2 separate regions of the Homo sapiens genome follow, and region 2 is linked to region 1. Evidence: fine-mapped expression QTL. A gene starts in region 1. The other region holds a variant in brackets. All regions are shown on one strand. Distances are from middle to middle. Region 1 holds the start of IFIT1B (interferon induced protein with tetratricopeptide repeats 1B). Region 2 has its middle 9.0 kb from the start of IFIT3.

Evidence for each region.
Region 2: its variant is fine-mapped to the expression of IFIT1B in whole blood (TOPMed, PIP above 0.99).

What each region holds. Positions count from the first base shown.
Region 1 is chr10:89,371,927-89,381,329 of GRCh38, reverse strand. IFIT1B (interferon induced protein with tetratricopeptide repeats 1B) reads right to left here and starts at 3,274. Exons shown (of 2, transcript NM_001010987.2): 1 at 3,190-3,274. The coding sequence starts at 3,194. It also overlaps a transcript of LIPA not described here.
Region 2 is chr10:89,314,119-89,323,867 of GRCh38, reverse strand. It overlaps a transcript of LIPA not described here. Among named protein-coding and RNA genes, the nearest start is that of IFIT3, 9.0 kb to the left of the region's middle. The variant A/G (reference allele first, on the strand shown) is at 5,453.

The DNA.
Region 1 (9,403 bases):
TCACCACCCCTACAGAAGATGGAATCGGGAAGAGTTTTTGACCCAAATCGTCCACTCATGCCCCGTGGAGCTTGTGCTATGATGAGAACAGACACTACCCAGGGAAAATAATCCACACAGACTTCCATTACTCTAGAGCTGCTGGAATATTTGAAGATAAGCCATTCCAAGCTTTCTAAATATGTACCCAATCTCAGCATCTCAGCTGCTAGCCCACCCAGCACATTTGTGAGCAGTAGAAAGAGATCAGTCTTCCTCTGAGTGATCTAATCATGGCCATGCATTGATAGGTGGAAAAAAGTATACTAGATTTTGGCTTTCACTGAGATTGTAGAATTTCAAGTGCACAATTTACACAATCTTACAAGGCTGCCCTGCCAAGTTCCAGAAGAGAATTATTGCTCTTTCTTATAGGTGGTTGTTCATCAACATGTATCTTCTTGACTTGGGCCCTGGGAAGACTAAGGAGTAGAATATCACCCTAGAGGTGTCCTCACTCTCTAAAATGGAAATGCTGAGAGCCTAAAGTCCTCCTTTTATCTGGTGAGCATACAGAAAGTGCTGTTATTAGTAGTATACATATTATCATCAAATTAGGCCCCAGCGTGGTGGCTAATGCCTGTAATCCCAACACTTTGAGAGTCCAAGGCAGGTGAATTGCTTGAGCCCAGGAGTTCACGACCAGCATGGGCAACATAGCGAAACCATGTCTCTCAAAAAATACAAAAATTAGCCGGGCCTGGCGATGCACACCAGTAGTCCCAGCGACTTGGGCTGACGTGGGAGGATCACCTGAGCCCGGGCAGGTGGAGGCTGCAGTGAGCTGTGATCATGCCACTGCACTCCAGACTGGGTGACAGAGGGAGGCCCTGTCTGGAAAAAAAAAAAAAAAAAGATGAGTTTGTGCATGTATGTAGTGACCTAATCCCTGTATGCCTGTGGCAGACAGGGACTCGTCACCATGTTTTGTGAGGCATTTCCCTGGATCTTGTCCACTTAAGCTCCACTTAAGCTGTCTTGATCAATAAGCATGAATGGAAGGAGGAGCTCAATCTGCTCCTCTGTCCCTGAACCAGTGGGATCAGGAGGATTTTGATGTGGGCATTATTCAGTCTGGGATAGTCCAGATTCCCCTTAGGCCACCTCAGGTCAGTGGCTTCTAGAAACATACGCCCAGGCCATTGCAAAACCTCTCACATAGACTAGCTACCAAGGCAGCAGGGAATGAAAGGCTTGCTTTCTGTCAACTCCACAGATGCAGACACAACTAATACCTTTTGTTTTTTTTTTTTTTTGAGACGGAGTCTCACTCTGTTGCCCAGGCTGGAGTGCAGTGGTGCAATCTCGGCTCACTTCAAGCTCCGCCTCCCAGGTTCACGCCATTCTCCTGCCTCAGCCTCCTGAGTAGCTGGGACTACAGGCGCCCGCCACCACTCCCGGCTAATTTTTTGTATTTTTTAGAAGAGGCGGGGTTTCACCTTGTTAGTCAGGATGGTCTTGATCTCCTGACCTCGTGATCTGCCCATCTCGGCCTCCCAAAGTGCTGGGATTACAGGTGTGAGCCACCATGCCCAGCCACAACTAACATCTTATGACCAGGAGCCCGTTATATTAAAAAGAGAGACTTGGGTACTCTTGTGGTGAATTTTTTTGCAATCCTTCATTTATAATTTCTTCTCAAGACAGGTCTACATGTTTGCTAGAAAGGGATCTCAAAAGAGCAGCCCCTTTTTCTGTAAAGTTCTTCCTCTCCCACTGACTGCAACATCAGATGGGAGAACTCTAGCAGGTCAGAATACTTTTGAGTGAAAGCATTTTCTGCAGGTCACCAGTTCTAACTACACCAGGAAAAAAAGAAATATATATTTTGTGGAACAAACATATCACAATGCCTACAAAATTTCTTATTTTCTAACATCTAGTATAATGGTTTTTCAAATTTTAGCAGGCAACATGATCACCTGGAAAACTTATAACACACAGATTGATGGGCCCCACCCTAGAGTTTCTGAGTCAGCAGGTTTAGGGTAGGGCCTGAGAATTTGCATTTCTGCTACCTTCCCAAGTGATGCTGATGTTGCTAGTCAGGGGACCACACTTTGAGAACAGTTAATTCAGTGAAAAGCAAATTTCATAGTAATCACAATTTCATAGTTTCACAGTAATCACAAAATTTGACTTGGTATCAAAAACAAACAAACAACAGAAAAACAGCCATCTCTGAAAGTAGCTTCTTTTTCCCACGTGAATTTAACCAATTTATCAAATAAAAATAGCTGCTTCTTCTCACCTGGATGCCTAAAAGAGTATTTTGTATATTAAAAGGATCTCAATGCTCTTGCCCTGACTGGTCCCCGGGCCAGTCTCCTCTCTAGGCTCAGGCCTCTGTTCCCTGGTGAACAGTCTTTAAGTGTTGCCTGGGTAATTGTCCCTCTATTAGAAAGTGCTACAGAAATGACATCTTTGGAAATAAGATTGCTTTCTCGTTTATTTCCTTAAGAGCATTGCTGCTTTTATTAAGCCAGCTACCCTTACTAAGCGAGCTCTGTAACAGGAGTTAGGAAACTTGCCTCTACATATATTCTCATCTTGCCCCTCTGAATCTACTTTCCTACATTCTTCACCATGCTCTGTGCTTGGAAGCTGACTCTATGGACTTTATTAACTCCAAAACTCTTTTATTTTTTACTTTCTACTGGGGTTGGCCCACTGGGGAGCACCAGCCAGATATTAAATTGCAGGAGGAGGTGAAGGTCATGGAATTAATTCCTAAGCTCCCACTGTGCTCTGCTTGAGGTTGTCAGTGATTTTTTCACCAAAGGCCTCTTGAGAAGCCCCTCCCCTACAGCTATAGCTTAGAGTCTCCTTGGGTCTGGTTCTCTCCTCTTGCTCCTGTAGGCCCAGGGTTATCATGTTACCACTGTTGTAAACCAACACGCCTCTTCCCGCTGCCCTGCAACCAACAAGCACCATTTCCTGTTGATTTCCCTAAACTTTGCCCATATCGTCTTAAATAGCCCCCTTATTAAACTCTTCTTGGTTATCATGTTGAGGGTGCCTATCAGGGTCAGAACCACCAGTGGGACAGCTCCCTTAGGAGAAGGCCTGTCAAAAAATTGGCCCTTAAGGAAAGTTTTAGAATTTCAAAGTGTGCAGAAATAAGGTCAGTGAAGCAGAGAAAGACTTTACCTCATGGTGCTATGAAGATAGCAGGTGATCTGTAGTGCTTTGGTTCAGGCTTGGAGGCTCCTTCAAGGTTCATCCACAGAGTTCTAGGGCTTCTCAGATAAGCATGGTGCTTATATATGGGAGGTATATCCAGGCAGTTTTTTACACCCTTGATGCCTAGTGAATTGGCAGGGTGAAAATGATACAGAGGAATAGGGCTGTCTCTGCTTTGATTACAAATACATGCTGAGTTTTGGCAGCTAAGAGGATGGGTGTGTGAGAAGCAGTTTTGATACGCAAATTCCCTTGCTGGAGTCAATGTGGTGTAGGAGATAGAGGGTAACTGGACTTTATGATGACATTCAGTGTTGTGGAAAAACCAGTGGCAGACAGGAACGTATATTTTTGTGAATCATGTCAGACTCTGTTGTCAAACTTGTTACTATCACATGTATCCCGCCAGGTGGTTCCAGGGACGTCTACAATGGAAGCTCCTTAGACCAGGGTCAGTGGTTTGTGCCTAAAAGAATACTGTAGAAAGTCATTGTCAATTTGTGGAAGAATGAGGTTGCAGATGGTTAGGTCTTCTTCTGTGGGGCTGTGTTAGGCAAAACAACTCCTCAATTTTGAGATATTGGTCTATAAGAAGGGTCCCATACTGGTTACATCCTCCAGCAGCATTTGCATTACTGCCAACCCTGGCTATAGTGGAGCCTATTCAAGCATATTGACTGTTTTGATGATCTTTACTGTTCACCATTAGTGGTTCAAACAACAATGTTTGAGCTGGTCAGTAGAGAAACATATGCAATGTAGTCAGAGAATGTGATGGGGTCATGGGGGTTAAAAATCTAAATCCAAATTCACATAGTTCTTCTGAGTTGTCCTTATGTTTCTTCTGTTTCTACTATTTTGAAGATTATCTGTTACAAAGCAACAACCATCAGAGAGTCAATCAAACAATGTTCACATGTTTAATGAAAAATTTATATGATCCCAAGGCTGATGTAATTGCCCACACAATTAGCAGAGAAAAAGGAAAATTTGGAAAGCTGCTATTCTGAATTCCTCTTGTGAATTGTTACAATGTCATCCTGTACGTTTCTGGATCTTGGTTTTGTAGGGGTAGTGCACCAAGATAAGCAAAAGGGCAAAGACTGAGAGCGATTTCCCTCTGAGTGAGCATTTCAAGGTAGGGTTATTAACTTCATTACAGTCTTCTCATAATTACCAAATGAAACTGTAGCCTCGCTGTGCTATTTCTTCTTTGTCCTGGGCCTGTAACTAGACTATATTTCCCAGGCTCCCATGTGGTAAGGTGTGGTCATGGGCATGGGATGGGAGGCTGTCAGGAAGCAGAAATGATTCTATAATTGGGTATCTTAAATTGTGTCTGGAAAAAGAGAAGACTAGACCAAGGTGACAGGTGTAATTTGAAAGGAAGCAGCAGTCATTCATATTGGCCAGTTTAAGGGGCTGCTTGATTATTTTCGAATCCAGTTGGAAAATATTCGTATTTTTGTCTGCACTCAGACCTGATTACAGAGTGGCCTTGTATTTTGTCTTGACCCATCATGGTCACAGGTGTTAATGATGCTCTCAGATGTCTGGGGCAGCTCTTCTCTTTCTTTTCAGGGAACTTCTGAGTTACTGCTCCAGTTACTGCTCCTGACCTTTCTAAAGCCAAAAATTATATAGACAAGAAGGACTACCCAGAAAAGGAACGTCACATAAGATCTTATGCATTCACAGTTGAAATGAGAGCAGACATCTTAGGAAAAGAATATGCTTAAGAAAGAGTATAGTATATAATCTCTCTCTCTATGTGAATTAAAAACCCATCTCCACGTCTATTCAAGGAAGGATTTAGGCAACTTGAGATAGACCACATCTCCCCATTCGCATGAGACAAGTTCCTAGAAGAATGTGCTGGACCTCTTGACTTCTTCTTCTTTTTTTTTTTTTTTTTTTTTTAAGATAGAGTCTCGCTGTATCACCTAGGCTGGAGTACAGTGGCACTATCTCTGCTCACTGCAACCTCTGCCTCCCAGGTTCAAGTGATTCTCATGCCTCAGCCTCCAGAGTAGCTGGCACTACAGGTGTGCACCACCATACCCAGCTATTTTTTTGTATTTTTAGTAGAGATGGGGTTTCACCATGTTGGCCATCCTGGTTTCGAACTCCTGACCTCAGGTGATGCACCTGTGTTGGCCTCCTAAAGTGTGGGATTACAGGTGTGAGCCACTGCACCTGGCCCGTCTTGACATCTTACAAGCACAGGATATCATTTAGATCCATGTATTCTTCCATAAACCCACCAAATCTCAACATTACTTAAGTAATGAGAATCCCCATTTTATTCCTTGAGTATACTCTAATAATAAAAGTAGGCAGAAAAATTCTCTAAGCATAATGACAGCACAGAAATGGAGGTTAGAACCATTCAGGGGAATGAGGGAAAGGAAACTAGGCCCACGTAGCCCTGCTGTGGAAGACCAAGTTTGCTGAAAGGGAAGAATGATTGTTAGTCAAACATTGTTCCATCTGGGGTTGAGCAAACCAAGGCCATTAGAAAAAACCTTCTACACCTGTCAGGTGACAGAATCACCTGATGGAGGGGGTTCTGCACAGATATTTGCCATCTTGTTTATTTTGGGGTTGTGTACTCTGAGTATAAGACAATAGCACCCCATCATAGAACAACCATTATTCTATATTTGGGGCCAATGGGATGTTTTCTTCTGAGGTTTCCTTTCTTGCTCTGCAGCTTGGGCATAATGAGAACTATTAAAACCCTTTACCTTTACTTGTCTTTGTGCGCACAAGATGATGTTGCTCAGTAGTGAAGGCCACCTGGAATCAGACTACCTGGGGTCATTAATGGACTTTGCTGCTTACTGGACATGTGATCTTGGGATAGTTGGTTCACATTTCTAAGCCACATTTACTTACCCATGGAATCGGAATAGCACTAGGACTTTCGTCATGGGGTTATGTTGAGATGAAGTGGGATATTGCATGGAAAGCATGTCTCATTTAACAGCATTCAGTAATTGTGAGTGTTGCTTTCACAGTGTGGGACAAGTCCCCTTATCTGTGCAGTCTGTGCTGACCATTAGCTGGAGCCCTTCCAGACTACAATTTTTCCCAGTGGGCACTGAGAGAGAGGTGTTTCATGTCATATCTGACTGTGCAGCTGCTGAGATAGGGGTGTCCTGTTCTGAGCTTCAGGCCAGGGCAATCTACATATTCCCATCTCAGGCTCAGGTCAGGGAGCCCTGGCCATATCTACACATAGAGCCCAGCAGTACCTCTTGGGCAGCAGGCATTCAACCTCTCCCTAGTGAGGATGGACCTGTGTAGGGGGAGAAGAGATTTTGGAATGGGACTCATTTCCTCTCAGCTCTCTCTCTCCAGTTCTGTATCAGATGGGAAGCTTCTAGGAGGCCAATTGTGTTTTCAGATACAAATATCTTCTGTAAGGCACTAGCCCTGAATCAACTCTAAAAGGGATAGAAACATAAGCAAATACTGAAATGAACATTAGGAGAGCTGCTTACACTGAGAGTAGTATGACTTTGGAATTTTCATGCATAAAATTATTGCTAGTAACAGCGTGTCAGAGAAACAGAGTGAGTGTTTGTCATGTGGTCACTGAATTTGGCAGCAGTCCTGGTTCTGTGAGGCTCTGGCTCAACTGATTAGGTATTCAGGATCTGGCCCAGTGTGTCCTTGGATAAATACAGCCATGAACCACACAGGACAGAGCAACAATAAGGAAACAGCCAACACATTGTGTAAGAGAGAGAGAGAGAGAGTGTGTGTGTGTCTGTGTCTACAAATAGGAAAAAAACAATGGAAACTAGAGAGGGAAACTCATTTCTAATGGGCAGGATGCCTACTTGTAGAAATGAAACTTAAGCATTGGAGAAATAAAACTTAACCACTATCAACATTCCAGAACCAGCTCTGTGTTCGACGAACTAGCAGAGTGAACTTGATTTCACTTAAACACTGAGTTTCCTCATCAGGTATAGAAAAAGGTTGGCCTTGAACAGTGGTTTACAACCTTGGGCTGCAAGGTTGTAAAATTCCTTGGAAGTCTTTTAAAAATGCAGATGCCTGAGCCAATCTCCAGCCCAATCAATCAGAATCTCTGGAAGTGAAGCCCAGGCATGAGTATTATCAGTAAGTTTTCTGAAAAAAGTAATCCCAAAGTGATTTTTTTGTGCATGGTTTAAAACCACTAGACTAGATTTTTGCTACTCAGGATATGGTCTGTTACAGTGGCATCCTCAACTACTAAAAGCCCAGAAATGCAGAATATCAGGCCCCTCTACAGATCTCCTGAATGAGAACTTGCCTTTTAACATGTCCAGATGATTTGTTGGTACATTAAAGTTTCACAGATACTTTTCCAAATGATCCCTGGATCCCTTTCAGGTCCAAATGCTTTGGATCAGAGACTAATTCCTAATAAATACCTATTTTCTATGAGGCTCTGAGTCTAGAACTTTATTTTTCTATGCTTTGGTTTCCCCTTGTGCACCTTAATAATCCATGCAATACCAGAAAGGATGTAGGTCAAAGTGCACTGACCTCTACAGAGAGTGTCTGATGTTTGCTTTTGAGACTACTCATGTTTGCAAACTTGCACCAATCATGTCCACAGAGAAAATACTCAGCTACTAGGAACTTCTCTGCTCTGAAAGTCCTGGTAATCTTCATACCACCTCAGGGGTCTTGATGGCTATCTTTGGGCTACTCTGATTTACTTTTCTGGCTGACTCCCACGTGTTCCAGTTTTTTTTTTTTTTTTTTTTTTTTGAGAGGGAGTCTCGCTCTGTCGCCCAGGCTGGAGTGCAGTGGTGCAATCTTGGCTCACTGTAAGCTCTGCCTCCCGGGTTCACGCCATTCTCCTGCCTCAGCCTCCCGAGTAGCTGGGATTACAGGCACCCACCACCACGCCCGGCAAATGTTTTTTGTATTTTTAGTAGAGACGGGGTTTCACTGTGTTAGCCAGGATGGTCTCGATCTCCTGACCTCATGATCCGCCCGCCTCTGCCTCCCAAAGTGCTGGGATTACAGGCGTGAGCCACCGCGTCCGGCCCCACGTGTTCCAATTCTAACTGAATTTCTGTGCTTTCATTGTTTTACATGTCAAATATTCATTCACCTGGAATTGTCTATATAAATTGTAGGAAGCATTTACATCACTGAACTAGACTCAAGATATTTCATAGATCCTATAATGTCTATTGGAAAAGTCCTCAGGTTCCCGGAAAGCAAGTTGTTTTTAGACTGTCTGAAGTATCTTGGGACTTGAAAAGTCCATGTCTATAAAGGAAATGAGAAGAGGTGAAGATGTTTTCTAGATGCAATTGAAATTTAGGATTATACATTGAGCTGAAAAAAGAAGTTCAATGCCATTCCCATGGTTCTGGGAAACCCACAGAGGTTTAAGGAACCTGCGATCCAAACATATTGTTAGCATGGCCAAGGCAGACTTCATTGCTCTAAGCTCCTTGTCCATTTCTATAATCAGCAAGCTATGAATTATCATTAGGTACAGGCCAGGTACTCTGTTGGGACACATAGGGCATGTTTCCTCTTCTCAAGTGACCTGTCATGTAGCAGGAGACAGATTGATAAGCGCTTAATTTGCTTTTAATAAAAACAGTACACATTGGTTGCTTTGAAATAACAGAGAATTGGATGTTTATCTCTTCCTGAGGTTCATGAAAAACTTCCTCAGTTAACTTTTGGTCTTTAACCTGAAGTGTTTGGCAAAATCATAATCCTGTTGTCTCCCCCACTGGAAGAATACTTCCAAGACTGTCTAGTCTGTGAGCAGGTCTGACCCCAAAGGGTCCCTGTGGCTACTCTTGCAGTGTGCAATGATGCTGGCTGCACACACTAGGGGAAAGGCTTTGGTCTAGGACCATAAACCTGTTCTTGTATCTCAAGTCATGGTAATCCTGCAAAAGCAGATAAGACAGAATGTGCAACGGTGAAACTGCCAGCTGACTACCAAATTAGTACACCGGAGACGGGAAGTTTTCTGTGATAGGGGCCTCTATGAGGGGCTTCCTCCTACTCTCTACCCTCAAGTAGGTCCCATATTTGTGTTGTTCCCTTCTTTGTGTCCACATGTACTCAGTGTTTAGCTCCCACTGGTGAGTGAGAACATGCAGTATCTTGTTTTCTGTTTCCATGTTAGTTGACTTAGGATAAT
Region 2 (9,749 bases), 58 kb after region 1:
TTTGTAAATTGCTTTGGGTAGTATGGCCATTTTAGCAATATCGATTCTTCCTATCCATGAGCATTTCCATTTGTTTGTGTCATCTCTGATTTCTTTGAACAATGTTTTGTAATTCTCATTGTAGAGATCTTTCACCTCCTGCGTTAGCTGTATTTCTAGGTATTTTATTCTTTTTGTGGCTATTGTGAATGGGATTGTCTTCCTGATTTGGCTCTCGGCTTGGATTTTGTTAGTGTATAGGAATGCTACTCATTTTTGTATGTTGATTTTGTATCCTGGAACTTTGCTGAAGCTGTTTATTAGACCTACGAGCTTTTGGGTAGAGACGTGGGGGTTTTCTAGGTATGCAATCAAATTGTCTGCAAAGATAGATAGTTTGACTTCCTCTCTTCCTATCTAGGTGCCTTTTATTTCATTCTCTTGCCTGCTTGCTCATGCTAGCAGTACTCTGTTGAATAGGAGTGCTAAGAGTGGGCATCCCTGTATTTTTCCAGTTCTCAAGGGGAAATCTTTCAGCTTTCGCCCATTCAGTATGATGTTGACCTTGGGTTTATCATAGATGGCTCTTATTATCTGGAGGTATGTTCCTTCAATATCTAGTTTGTTGAGGATTTTTAACATTAATGGATGTTGAATTTTATCAAAAGCCTTTTCTGTATCTATTGAGATGATCACGTGGTTTCAGTTTTAAGTTCTGCTTATGTGGTGAATCACATTTATTGATTTGTGTATGTTGAACCAACAGAAACAAGAATTTTATAAAGGAATGGGAAATGAGAATTTGGCTGTGGGACATAAATTGGAAGCTCTAGCAGGCATGGCTTGCCTGGCTACAAGAGGCCAGGGTAGGTGGGGTTGCCTACCTTGCCTGAATGTTTCCCAGGACAACAGGAGGCTGTGCTCTCTGGCTGAATTCAGACAGAAGTGGAACCACTGGGATGGAAGCTCTAGCAAGTGTTGCCTGCCTGGCAACCAGTGGCAGGGGTAGATGTAGTCACCTGTCTTGCCCTCCAGGTGCTTCCTGGGAGAACAGGAGGCTATGGTCACTGGCTGAGTTCAGACAGAGAAGTAGGACCAGTAGGCTGGAAGCTGGCACCAAGCCCCATCCAGAAAGGGTTTGAGATGGGGCAATCTTACTGCTCCTAGGCACTGGGACTGCAGCCTTTATTGGGCTATGGCACCAGTGCTGGTCTTCTTGGGGGCACAAGGCTTGCAGAAGTCTCCTTGGACTAGAGAGTTGCCCTCCAAAATGTCTGGGGGGCTCTCTGCCTCAGTCTAGAAGCACGGTGGTGGGGTCGGGGGTGGGCAGGGGTTTCAGGGGCATTCTCCCATTTCCAGTCTTGCACAGGTCCCTGTCGAGAGTGTGAATCCCCTAGGGGGTTCTCACTCACTCACCCTTTCCAGTGTTGGAGAAATTCTCCTGGATCCACGCTGAGCCCGGACAGGCTGGTATCTAGCTTCACCCCTTTCTGCTCTCTGTAATCCCCTTACATCTTGAAGGATCCCGAATCCCTGACATGATTTCTCAGATGATTGGCCTGCAGGGTCAATGCTCACTAGCCCTTTTGTTTCCTTTCCGTGATAGCCTGGCACATGAGTTGCTTCTAGTTTACCATCTTAACCCCGAGCTCGAAACTGCATTTTTTAAAATTTTACTTTAAGTTCTAGGATACATGTGCACAACACGCAGGTTTGTTACATATGTATACTTGTGCCATGTTGGTGTGCTGCACCCATTAACTCGTCATTTACATTAGGTATATCTCCTAATGCTAACCCTCCTCCCTCCCCCTACCCCATGACAGGCCCCAGTGTGTGATGCTCCCCATCCTGTGTCCAGTTGTTCTTATTGCTCAGTTCCGACTTATGAGTGAGAACATGCGGTGTTTGGTTTTCTGTCCTTGCGATAGTTTGCTCAGAATGATGGTTTCCAGCTTCATCCATGTCCCTACAAAGGACATGAACTCATCCTTTTTTATGGCTGCATAGTATTCCATGGTGTATATGTGCCACATTTTCTTAATCCAGTCTATCATTGATGGACATTTGGGTTGGTTCCAAGTCTTTGCTATTGTGAATAGTGCTGCAATAAACATACGTGTACATGTGTCTTTATAGCAGCATGATTTATAATCCTTTGGATATATACCCAGTAATGGGATGGCTGGGTCAAATGGTATTTCTAGTTCTAGATCCTTGAGGAATCGCCACACTGTCTTCCACAATGGTTGAACTAGTTTACAGTCCTACCAACAGTGTAAAAGTGTTCCTATTTCTCCACATCCTCTCTAGCACCTGTTGTTACTGACTTTTTAATGATGGCCATTCTAACGGGTGTGAGATGGCATCTCATTGTGGTTTTGATTTGCATTTCTCTGATGGCCAGTGATAATGAGCTCTTTTTCATGTGTCTGTTGGCTGCATAAATGTCTTCTTTTGAGAAGTGTCCATTCATAGCCTTTGCCCACTTTTTGATGGGGTTGTTTGATTTTTTTCTTGTAAATTTGTTTAAGTTTTTTGTAGATTCTGGATATTAGTCCTTTGTCAGATGGGTAGATTGTAAAAATTTTCTCCCACTCTGTAGGTTGCCTGTCCACTCTGATGGTAGTTTCTTTTGCTGTGCAGAAGCTCTTTAGTTTAATTAGATCCCATTTGTCAATTTTGGCTTTTGTTGCCATTGCTTTTGGTGTTTTAGACATGAAGTCCTTGCCCATGCCTATGTCCTGAATGGTATTGCCTAGGTTTTCTTCTAGGGTTTTTATGGTTTTAGGTCTAACATTTAAATCTTTAATCCATCTTGAATTAATTTTTGTATAAGGTGTAAGGAAGGGATCCAGTTTCAGCTTTCTACATATGGCTAGCCAGTTTTCCCAGCACCATTTATTAAATAGGGAATCCTTTCCCCATTGCTTGTTTTTGTCAGGTTTGTCAAAGATCAGATGGTTGTAGATGTGTGGTATTATTTCTGAGGGCTCTGTTCTGTTCCATTGGTCTATATCTCTGTTTTGGTACCAGTACCATGCTGTTTTGGTTACTGTAGCCTTGTAGTATAGTTTGAAGTCAGGTAGTGTGATGGCTCCAGCTTTGTTCTTTTGGCTTAGGATTGTCTTGGCAATGCAGGCTCTATTTTGGTTCCATATGAACTTTAAAGTAGTTTTTTCCAATTCTGTGAAGAAAGTCATTGGTAGTTTGATGGGGATGGCATGAATCTATAAATTACCTTGGGCAGTATGGCCATTTTCACGATATTGATTCTTCTTATCCATGAGCATGGAATGTTCTTCCATTTGTTTGTGTCCTCTTTTATTTCATTGAGCAGTGGTTTGTAGTTCTGCTTGAAGAGGTCCTTCACATCCCTTGTAAGTTGGATTCCTGGGTATTTTATTCTCTTTGAAGCAATTGTGAATGGGAGTTCACTCATGATTTGGCTCTCTGTTTGTCTGTTATTGGTGTATAGGAATGCTTGTGATTTTTGCACATTGATTTTGGATCCTGAGACTTTGCTGAAGTTGCTTATCAGCTTAAGGAGCTTTTGGGCTGAGACTATGGGGTTTTCTAAATATACAATCATGTCATCTGCACACAGGGACAATTTGACTTCCTCTTTTCCTAATTGAATACCCTTTATTTCTTTCTCCTGCCTGATTGCCCTGGCCAGAACTTCCAACACTGTTTTGAATAGGAGTGTTGAGAGAGGGCATCCCTGTCTTGTGCCAGTTTTCAAAGGGAATACTTCCAGTTTTTGCCCATTCAGTATGATATTGGCTGTGGGTTTGTCATAAATAGCTCTTATTATTTTGAGATATGTCCCATCAATACCTAGTTTATTGAGAGTTTTTAGCATGAAGGGCTACTGAATTTTGTTAAAGGCCTTTTCTGCATCTATTGAGATAATCATGTGGTTTTTGTCTTTGGTTCTGTTTTTATGCTGGATTACATTTATTAATTTGCATATGTTGAACCAGCCTTGCATCCCAGTGATGAAGCTAACTTGATCATGGTGGATAAGCTTTTTGATGTGCTGCTGGATTCAGTTTGCCAGTATTTTATTGAGGATATTTGCATTGCATCGATGTTCATCAGGGGTATTGGCCTGATATTCTCTTTTTTTGTTGTGTTTCTGCCAGGCTTTGGTATCAGGATGATGCTGGCCACATCAAATGAGTTAGGGAGGATTCCCTCTTTTTCTATTGATTGGAATAGTTTCAGAAGGAATGGTACCAGCTCGTCTTTGTACCTCTGGTAGAATTCAGTTGTGAATCCATCTGGTCATGGACTTTTTTTGGTTGGTAGGCTATTAATTATTGCCTCAATTTCAGACCCTGTTATTGGTCTATTCAGGAATTCAACTTCTTCCTGGTTTAGTCTTGGGAGGGTGTATGTGTCCATGAATTTATCCATTTCTTCTAGATTTTCTAGTTTATTTGCATAGAGGTGTTTATAGTATTCTCTGATGATAGTTTGTATTTCTGTGTGATTGGTGGTGATATCCCCTTTATCATTTTTAATTGCATCTATTTGATTCTTCTCTCTTTTCTTCTTTATTAGTCTTGCTAGTGGTCTATCAATAATGTTGATCCTTTCAAAAAATCAGTTCCTGGATTCATTGATTTTTTTGAAGGGTTTTTTGTCTCTATCTCCTTCAGTTCTGCTCTGATCTTAGTTATTTCTTGCCTTCTGCTAGCTTTTGAATGTGTTTGCTCTTGCTTCTCTAGTTCTTTTAATTGTAATATTAGGTGTCAATTTTAGATCTTTCCTGCTTTCTCTTGTGGGCATTTAGTGCTATAAATTTCCCTCTATACACTGCTTTAAATATGTCCCAGAGATTCTGGTGTGTTGTGTCTTTGTTCTCATTGGTTTCAAAGAACATCTTTATTTCTGCCTTCATTTTCTTATGTACCCAGTAGTCATTCAGGAGCACGTTGTTCAGTTTCCATGTAGTTGAGCAGTTTTGAGTGAGTTTCTTAATCCTGAGTTCTAGTTTGATTGCACTGTGGTCTGAGAGACAGTTTGTTATAATTTCTGTTCTTTTACATTTGCTGAGGAGTGCTTTACTTCCAACTATGTGGTCAGTTTTGGAATAAGTGCAATGTGGTGCTGAGAAGAATGTATATTCTGTTGATTTGGGGTGGAGAGTTCTGTAGATGTCTATTAGGTCTGCTTGGTGCAGAGCTGAGTTCAACTCCTGGATATCCTTGTTAACTTTCTGTCTCGTTGATCTGTCTAATGTTGACAGTGGGGTGTTAAAGTCTCCTGTTATTATTGTTTGGGAGTCTACATCTTTTTGTAGGTCTCTAAGGACTTGCTTTATGAACCTGGGTGCTCCTGTGTTGGGTGCATATATATTTAGGATAGTTAGCTCTTCTTGTTGAATTGATCCCTTTACCATTATGTAATGGCCTTCTTTGTCTCTTTTGATCTTTGTTGGTTAAAGTCTGTTTTATCAGAGACT[A/G]GGATTGCAACCCTGCTTTTTTTATTTTCCATTTGCTTGGTAGATCTTCCTCTATCCCTTTATTTTTAGCCTATGTGTGTCTCTGCCATGAGATGGCTCTCCTGAATACAGCACACTGATGGTTCTTGACTCTTTAGCCAATTTGCCAGTCTGTGTCTTTTAATTGGGGTATTTAGCCCATTTACATTTAAGGTTAATATTGTTATGTGTGAATATGATCCTGTCCTTATCATGTTAGCTGGTTATTTTGCTCGTTAGCTGATGCCGTTTCTTCCTAGCACCGATGGTCTTTACACTTTGACATGTTTTGCAGTGGCTGGTACCGGTTGTTCCTTTCCATGTTTAGTGCTTCCTTCAGGAGCTCTTGTAAGGCAGGCCTGGTGGTGACAAAATCTCTCAGCCTTTGCTTGTCTGTAAAGGATTTTATTTCTCCTTCACTTATGAAGCTTAGTTTGGCTGGATATGAAATTCTGGGTTGAAAATTCTTCTCTTTAAGAATGTTGAATATTGGCCCCCACTCTCTTCTGGCTTGTAGAGTTTCTGCCGAGACATCTGCTGTTAGTCTGATGGGCTTCCCTTTGTGGGTAACCTGACCCTTCTCTCTGGCTGCCTTTAACATTTTTTCCTTCATTTCAACTTTGGTGAATCTGCTAATTATGTGTCTTGGAATTGCTCTTCTCGAGGAATATCTTTGTGGCGTTCTCCGTATTTCCTGAATTTGAATGTTAGCCTCCCTTGCTAGGTTGGGGAAGTTCTCCTGCATAATATCCTGCAGAGTGTTTTCCAACTTGGTTCCATTCTCCGTGTCACTTTCAGGTACACCAGTCAGATGTATGTTTGGTCTTTTCACATAGTCCCATATTTCTTGGAGGCTTTGTTCATTTCTTTTTACTCTTTTTTCTCTAAACTTCTCTTCTCACTTCATTTCATTCATTTGATCTTCAATCACTAATACCCTTTCTTCCAGTTGATGAATTGGCTACTGAAGGTTGTGCATGCGTCATATAGTTCTCATGCCATGGTTTTCAGCTCCATCACATCATTTAAGGTCTTCTCTACGCTCTTTATTCTAGTTAGCCATTCGTCGAATCTTTTTTCAAGGTTATTAGCTTCTTTGCCATGGGTTCAAACATCCTCCCTTAGCTCGAAGAAATTTGTTATTACCGATTGTCTGCAGCCTTCTTCTCTCAACTCATCAAAGTCATTCTCCGTCCAGCTTTGTTCCATTGCTGGCAAGCAGCTGCATTCCTTTGGAGGAGAAGAGGCACTCTGATTTTTTAGAATTTTCAGCTTTTCTGCTCTGGTTTCTCCCCATCTTTGTGGTTTTATCTACCTTTGGTCTTTGATGATGGTGACATACAGATGGGGTTTTGGTGTGGATGTCCTTTCTGTTTTTTAGTTTTCCTTCTAACAGTCAGGACCCTCAGCTGCAGGTCTGTTGGAGTTTGCTGGAAGTCCACTCCAGACCCTGTTTGCCTGGGTATCACCAGTGGAGGCTGCAGAAAGGCAAATGTTGCTGCCTGATCCTTTCTCTGGAAGCTTCATCGCAGAGGTGCACTCTGCCGTATGAGGTGTCAGTCAGCCCCTACTGGGAGGTGCCTTCCAGTTAGGCTACTCAGGGAGGAGTAACAGACTAACTCCCACTTGAGGAGGCAGTCTGTCCATTCTCAGATCTCAAACTCCGTGCTGGGAGAACCACTACTCTCTTCAAAGCTGTCAGACAAGGGTGTTTAAGTCTACAGAAGTTTCTGCTGCCTTTTGTTCAGCTATACCCTGCCCCAGAGGTGGAGTCTATAGAGGCAGGCAGGCCTCCTTGAGCTGTGGTGGGCTCCACCCAGTTTGAGCTTCCTAGCCACTTTGTTTACCTACTCAAGCCTCAGCAATGGTGGGCGCCCCTCCCCCAGCCTCACTGCTGCCTTGCAGTTCCATCTCAGACTGCTGTGCCAGCAGTGAGCAAGGCTCCCTGGGCATGGGACCCTCTGAGCCAGGAGCAGGATATAATCTCCTGGTGTTCTGTTTGCTAAGACCGTTGGAAAAGCGCAGTATTAGGGTGGGAGTGTCTCAATATTCCAAGTACCATCTGTCATGGCTTCCCTTGGCTAGGAAAGGGAATTCCCTGACTCCTTGCACTTCCCGGGTGAGGCGATGCCCCGCCCTGCTTTGGCCCACACTGTGTGGGCTGCACCCACTATCTGACAAGCCCCAGTGAGATGAACCCAGTACCTCAGTTGGAAATGCAGAAACTACCATCTTCTGCATCACTCATGCTGGGAGCTATAGACTGGAGCTGTTCCTATTTGGCCATCTTGGAACCTCCTCTGAAACTGCATTTTTAATAATGTCTCTAGGAGATTCTGATGTAGGGGTTTCTGGGAGCCGGTTATATGAAAGACTTCCAAAATGTTTTGTAAAAAAAATAGTAGTTTTAGTATACATATGTAACTAACCTGCACAATGTGCACATGTACCCTAAAACTTAAAGTATAATAAAAAAAAATAGTAGTTTTGTCCAGTAAATTGTCCCCCAGAAGTAAATTTAGACCTAGAGACCTAGATTTAATTATCTCTGTTTACTTTACTAGTTCTCGAATTTTCCAGGGGCCATATCATTGAGCCAGAATTTCCTTTTTGCCTCACACTAAACATACGAAGCCAGGCCCTGGAGGGATCTGTGAGCTGTTTAGCTTTCCAAGCTCTGGATAATAATTTAGTTTACCCAGCTGTAAAATGGGCAAAAGTAATACACATATTATTGTTTAATGGATGGATTATATATTTATGCTTTGAGCTCTGAAGGAGTTGATACTACCCTGAGAGGTTTTTTTTTTCTTTTCATTTTTATAATACTTCCCAACCATGATGTAAATATTCATAAAAACCTAGGGAGTATAGTTGTCATGACTAATTTGATAATGAAGGAATTGTTAGCTAGAAGCGTTTCCTCCATCCTGTAGCTGCACAAAGCAGAGACTCTTGTGTAGCAAAATTAACATGACATATGGTGTTTCCAACAACAGAGTCTCATGAGATACTTCGAGTTCAGAGGTTGTTATAGTCTAAGAAAGAAACCTGCAACTTGGAAAAGTCTAATTCTGATTGGTTGTTTAACTTAACAATTTGTTATCTTGGTGATAATAAAGTGACATATCTTTATAAAAGGTACATATATTTGTGATATCATAAATGGTATAAATACCATCCTTATACCCAGTTAGAAGGTGCCTTTGGCCCCGTGCTTTAGAGGGTCCCATATATCACAGATACAAACATGTAAAATTTTGAAAGAACAAATAGCACCTCTGTTACTCAGAATCCAGTGCTTAATTCTGGTAGAATTGGACTTGAAACCCTAAACATCCAGCCCAGGGAAAAGTTGCCTATCTTCCCTTCTTTGCTCACAATGAATGGAGATTATATCATGCATGTTTGTGCATTGTGAGGGAGCTGATTTTTAGAGACAGATTCTGCTTTGGAGTTCAGAGAGGATTGTAGCAATAAAGATCAGAGAAAAGGCAAATTCAGCAAACTGCTCAAAGACTGTCTTTCACCAGAATGCAATAGATTCTTATGTAATGAATAATTATTTTTCCAGTACAGTAGGACCTATTGTCCATTTTCTTGCTTTTCTTTTTGTTCTAATTCCTGGCTCAAAAAGTACTCATGAATTAGCAGTATTTGCAACAGTTGCACATGGTGACTGAATAACATTCTGCATCATTAAGAAATTCATACTATTCTTTTTTTTCTTTTTGACAGAGTCTCGCTCTGTAGCCAGGCTGGAGTGCAGTGGCACAATCTCGGCTCACTGCAACCTTCACCTCCTGGGTTCAAGAAATTCACCTGCCTCAGCCTCCCGAATAGTTGGGACTGCAGGTACCCACCACCATACCCACCTAATTTTTGTATTTTTAGTGGAGATGGGGTTTCACCATGTTGGCCAGGATGGTCTCGATCTCTAAACCTCGTGATCCACCCGCCTTGGCCTCCCAAAGTGTTGGGATTAGAGGCGTAAGCCACTGCGCTCGGGCATAAATTCACATTATTCTTAAACTTGTACACATGCAGATTTGAACTTACATATGGAGTCAAATTCTCTTCTGTATTTGGACTCTTTCTTTGTGCCAATTTGCCAATCAGTAAGGTTCCTGCGTATGAGTATTTAAATATAAAATCAGATGGGACCAGATTTTCATAGCACACCCAACTCAGAAAATAGAATACATAACTTATCTAACATATCTACCGAATGTGAAAGCAATGACAGTATTCAAAATGCTACTAATAAGGATACAACACA